Linked DNA regions of Homo sapiens: region 1 is linked to region 2. Evidence: fine-mapped expression QTL. Tissue or cell type: whole blood. Region 2 holds a variant in brackets; the other region holds the start of a gene. All regions are shown on one strand. Distances are between the middles of the regions.

Region 1 (2,908 bases), 20 kb before region 2:
GAATTTTGGGGGGCTTGCAATTTTCATTAGGGTGGCAATTTTCCTTTTCACGGAAAAGGAGGTGTGTGATAAAGCTGGAAGGAGGTGAGCGAGCATCAGACATGGAATATAAGGATGCAGAGGGTGAGGGGGTAGGGAAAGCATTTTAGGGAGAGGGTACTGCAAGCACGAAGGCCATGAGGCAAAAACCTGTGCTCGGCAATTTGTCTTGGCCACAAAAGCTTTATCCCAGTCGTCAGTCCATTAAACCCTGTAGCTTTAAGTGTTGTGAGATCACAATCTTTATTTTTTAACTTGTGATGGTTCTGGACGGCAATTGCTGTTTCCTGCAATCTGTGGATGAATGAATGAGCAAAGCAGTTAGCAGCGGGATGAGTACAGGGGAGCAGCTCCACACCTGACACCTTATCCAAGTTCCCCCAGACCCTTGGCGCCCTGGTTCCCCCAGAACTTCGTTTGCATTCGTCTTTAAATGTCTTCTCAGTTTGCCTTGGGTCAGTTATTTGTATACCGATTAGACCTGTGCCGCCCACTGCGGTAGCAGCTAGTAGGAATTGGATGTGCTTTAAGTGTAAATACCAGATTTCCAAGACTTGCTGCAAAAACTGTAAAACATTCCACTAACGATTTTGCAATACTGCCTACATGCTGAAATAATTTGACTTTATTGGGTTGAGATATATTACTGTAACTTTCTTTTTTCATTAGAAAAATGTAGCCACTAGCAAATGTGAAGTGTCAGGCGTGTGGCGCGCAGATGCCTCTTTAAACTGGATGGCGCCGGGTTGGCCCTCACTATCAGCGGGCTCCCGACAGGAGGCGCCCCAGCTTGCGGCCGGGGGCAGCGCCTACCAGGCAGTTGGCAGGCAGTTCCAGCCCCGGGCCACGGCACTGCAGGGCCCGAGCCAGGTTACGGCAACCGGGGGCCCTGCAAACAGCTCCCGATTAGGGGGTGCTTTTGGGTGGGAAAGCGCAGGCCCTGGATGGAGGCCCGACCTGCGGCGCTCCAGCTCATCGCCCCGCCTCTTTGCGGCAGAGCTCAGGCCGGCGCAAACCGGTTCAGTGCTAGGACTGACGTCTCGCGCCGCCCAACCGCAGCACGCCCCCGCCTCCCCAGTCCTCTGGAAGAGACAGGGAACGTCTAGCCGCCAGGGTCCCGGGAGGCGGCTCTGTACCAGACGGACTATACTGAGAGCCTATGACAATAGCCGAAGGTGCCGGGGGGGGGGGGGGGGTGGCCTACTACCAATAAAGGAAGGGGAGGGGCGGGCCCTCGTTAGCTTCCCCCCCCTACCACGCTTCCTCGGGCGCGGGTCTACCCAGAGCCTAACGGGCGCGCGAGTGTGGGGGAAGGGCCTGGCGCGGGCTGGAGACTGCGCAGTGCGGTGCCGGCCGGGAGGGGGGGGGGGGGTGACGTAATCTCCGTCCGCGGCCGCGGCGCCCCGCCCCGCGACACCCTCCGCGAACCGCGAGAGCGCAGCGCAGGCGGTCCGCAGCAGCCGCAGCTCGGGGGCGGTGCCTGCCTTGCAGCCTCCCCTCGGCGATCGCGCAGCCCCATCTTTGTCCGGCCTCCGCGCTTTGTTCTCGGCGCCCGGGCCTTGGCCAGCCTGGCCAGCCGCCGAGCAGCCCCCACGCCGCGCTGGCGTCGTCCTCGCCTCCCTCGCCGCCGCCCCCCGCGCGCGGCCGGGCCTTGCCCCCCATGGTGTCCCGGCCAGAGCCCGAGGGCGAGGCCATGGACGCCGAGCTGGCGGTAGCGCCGCCGGGCTGCTCGCACCTGGGCAGCTTCAAGGTGGACAACTGGAAGCAGAACCTGCGGGCCATCTACCAGTGCTTCGTGTGGAGCGGCACGGCTGAGGCCCGCAAGCGCAAGGTGCGCCCGGCAGCCCACCGCGCGGCGGGCTCGGGGCCTTCTGCCGCTCCTGAGGCCGGCCGGCGGAGGGGCCCTTTTCCTGCCCTCTTCCCTTCCCCCGTTGCCTTTCCCTGTCCTTCCTCTTCCTCTCTCCTTCTGCCCTCTCTTCTCTTTACCCCTTCCCCCTCCTTTCCTTCCCCCCTCAACTCTCTCCCTTCCCTTATCTCCTCATCTTCCTATCCTTCCCCTCTCCCCCCTTCCCCCATTCTTCCTTTCCCTCCCCCTCCTCTCTGTCCCCTCCCCCTCCTCTCTGTCCCCTCCCCCTCCTTTCTCTCCGCCCTCCCCCTCCCTTATCCTTCTTGGCCCGGGAGGGGCGAGTGCTTCCGGGCCGGGGGTGGTGTTCTCCTGCCCTGCTGCCTGGGGAGCCTGGGACTTCGGTGGGCGGTCCCGGGCGTTCCTGCGCGAGGTCCTTGCGGGGAACTCTCCTGGTTCTGGAGGGTTCGGGGCTGGATGCGGGTGCAGAGAAAGAAATATTTCAAAAAAATGAGTAAAGGATGGGGGGCTGTCGAGTTCTGGGCGTTGGTCTGCAGCGGTCACCCGCCGCCAGGAGCGACCTTGGACGGGAGCTGGGGCAGGAGGCGGGCTGGGGGGCGCGGGGCCGGAGCTTCGCGGCTGCCTCGGGGCCCGCGAGGAGCTGGAGGTGGAGGGCGGCAGGGGCTGGGGCCGGGGCGAGCCTGTGGGTGCGGAGCCACAGCCCGGGTTTGCGTTGCGGCTGAGGAGTAGACTTGGAAGCGCGCCGTGGGCTGTGGGAGGCCTTAACCAGGAGTGAGTCCCCTCGGGGAGCCCAGTCTTGCGTCCCGCAGTTAGGCTTGGTAAGGGTTTGGAAATCAAAACGTAACGTGATTCTTCTATGTGAATAAAGTTTATTTTTACAGTTTCACGCGCTTTTGTAGATTACAATCCGAGATTGGGAGTTGTGAGGGCAGTTTCCACCTTGAGTGGCATTTTTTTATTTATGGGAATACCAACAGGCTCGCTGAGATTGTAGGGTATGTTAAG
Region 2 (2,908 bases):
GTTTTTCACGGGATATCTTGGCCTTACTGTAAATTCTCATCACCCTTATTGTAAACTTGTCTCTGTCAGGATTTCTCTGTGACGTCCATGTGCTGGGGCTGTACTGCTGATGAACAGGAAGTGGCAAAGGTTGATGGCTGAGCTCTGCGACAGCTCCCACCAGGATTTTAACATCGTTGTTGGCATTTTGTGAATTTTTTGAGTAGGGCAGAAGGTAGCCCTGGGAATCTTAAACTGCTGTTTTGAGTTTCAACAGATCTGCTTTGGAAGACTTCAAAGATTTACCACAATATAAGTCGTAGTAGCTTAAGACCTGAAATAGAATAAAACTGTGGTGTTCCAAGACTTCCCTGTTTATCCGGGGATGCACTTAAGTTATATACTAACCTAATCATCACACAGCTCTGGGAAGCACTAGTACCGTTGCTATCAGCATCTTACCGCAGGGGAAACTGAGGCTCAGAGGTGTGGAGTAATTGATGAAAGGTGCACAGCTGGCAGGTGGCATAGTGAGGGCTGGTGCCAGTTACTCTCAATCCATGGTCTTTCCTCTGTGCTTCGCTGCCTCCCGGGTGTCTGACATCACGTGGATTTAAGCCCCACTCTCCCAATTTTTTTTTTTTTTTTTTTTTTGAGACATAGTCTGGCACTCTCGCCCAGGCTGGAGTGCAGTGGTGCAGTCTTGGCTCACTGCAGCCTCTGCCTTCCGGGCTCAAGCCATCCTTCCACCTAAGCCTCTTGAGTAGCTGGGACCTTAGACACACACCACCACACCCGGCTAATTTTTGTAGAGATGGGGGTTCACCATGTTGCCTAGGCTGGTCCTGGAACTCCTGAGCTCAAGTGATCCACTCACCTCAGCCTCCCAAAGTGCTGGGATTACAGGTGTGAGCCACCACGCCGGGTTTCTCTCCCAGTTTTTTAAAAAATATTTTAACTTTTATTTTAGTTTCAACGGTACATGTGCAGGTTTGTTATATAAACGTATTATTCAGTGGTTTGGTGTACAGTTTATTCCCTCACCTGGGTATGTACTGTAGTACCTGACAATTTTTTTTGTTTGTTTTTCCTGATCCTCTCCCTTCTCCCACTCTCCACCCTCAAGTAGGCCGCAGTGTCTGTTGTTCTCCTCTTGTGTCCATGTGTTCTAATGGTTTAGCTCCCACTTATAAGTGAGAACATGTGGTATTTGGTTTTTCTGTTCCTATGTTAGTTTTCTAAGGATAATGACCTCCAGCTCCATCCATGTTCCTGCAAACGACATGATCTCATTTCATTTTATGTATACATGGTATC[C/T]CATGGTATATATGTACATTTTCTTTATCCAGTCCACCATTGGTGAGCATTTAGGTTGATCTCATGTCTTTGCTATTGTGAATAGTGCTGCGATGAACACACGCATGCATGTGTCTTTATGGTAGAGCCATTTACCTTCCTTTGGGTAGGTAATCCTGGTTCATTTGGTTTTTTTTTTTTTTTGAGACGGAGTCTCGCTCTGTTGCCCAGGCTGGAGTGCAGTGGTGAGATCTCAGCTCATAGCAAGCTCCGCCTCCCAGGTTCACGCCATTCTCCTGCCTCAGCCTCCTGAGTAGCTGGGACTATAGGTGCCTGCCACCATGCCTGGCTAATTTTTTGTACTTTTAGTAGAGACGGGGTTTCACCATGTTAGCCAGGATGGTCTCAATCTCCTGACCTCGTGATCTGCCTGCCTCGGCCTCCCAAAGTGCTGGGATTACAGGCGTGAACCACCACACCCGGTTAACCCCAGTTGTTTATAAATTGTTGAATGGAGAGAGTACCTTTTTTCAGGCACTCAGAGGACTTTATCTTACTTACTTTTATGATAAAATAATTAAGAGCCCAAACTATTAGTCCTATTTTATTTTATTTTATTTTTTTGACTTTTTACAAATTATTACTTTTAACAAAGAAAGCAAAAGTGGATCTTATTTCCATAAAATAAAGGTTTATGTTGACAATTAAAAACTGGACATGCACACGATTAGAAAGTTCAAACGACACGAAAATGTATACTTCTCCCCAAAGGAAACGACTGTGAACAGTTTCTTGTGACTGTTTTAGAAAATTGAAATTTATACATACATATGTATCTCTTCTTATTTGTGAAAAGAATATACTAGTATTACTATAATTTTTTTATTTTTATTTTTATTTTTTGAGACAGAGTCTCACTCTGTTGCCCAGGCTGGAGTGCAGTGGCAAGATCTTGGCACACTGCAACCTCCCCTTCCCAGGTTTCAGCTGTTCTCACGCCTCAGCTCCCCGAATAGCTGGGGTTACAGGCGTGTGCCACCATGCCTGGCTAATTTTTTGTACTTTAGTAGAGATGGGGTTTCACCATGTTGACCAGGCTGGTCTTGAACTCCTGGCCTCAAATGATCTGCCTACATCGGCTTCCCAAAGTGCTGGGGTAACAGGCATAAGTCACAGCTCCTGGCCTATTAGTCCCATTTTTTAGAAGATGCAGTTGAGAAATTGTGGTAGAAGACCCACCTTCAGGCAGCTCTGGGTCAAGATGTCAATCAAAGTCATCCGATGAGAAACTATTTTCCCCCTGTACTTAAGGTAAGAGTAGCAAATGCCGCCAACCACAAAAGTCACAGCAAGTTGCTGCCACATTCTTTATGGTGATGGTGTCAGGAATTCTAGATGGAGGGAAGCATAGTCACTCCGTGTCAGGTGGCCAGGACTGAAAATATCCAATGCAGTTGTACCAGTTTTAAATACCACGCATTCAGAGAAGGTGGCAGAGGTCCTGATCCTGGAGTATTGGCTGCTTTGAAAAGTATGTATGGGTCGCCTCTGTTTTTTAAGACACCTCAGCCCTGGGCATGAGCTGCCAAACACAGTGCATGCCCCTCACCTGCTCAGGATAGGAGACTCCGCT

What was found. PIP is the estimated chance that this variant, and not a neighbour inherited with it, causes the effect.
Region 1: USP22 starts here. The variant in region 2 is fine-mapped to the expression of USP22 in whole blood (TOPMed, PIP above 0.99).

Annotation. Positions count from the first base shown.
Region 1 is chr17:21,041,627-21,044,534 of GRCh38, reverse strand. USP22 (ubiquitin specific peptidase 22) reads left to right here and starts at 1,524. Exons shown (of 13, transcript NM_015276.2): 1 at 1,524-1,870. The coding sequence starts at 1,700. RefSeq lists enhancers at 1-753, 754-1,703 and a silencer at 1,239-1,838.
Region 2 is chr17:21,021,370-21,024,277 of GRCh38, reverse strand. All of the region lies in intron 2 of USP22 (ubiquitin specific peptidase 22), which reads left to right. Among named protein-coding and RNA genes, the nearest start is that of USP22, 20 kb to the left of the region's middle. The variant C/T (reference allele first, on the strand shown) is at 1,297.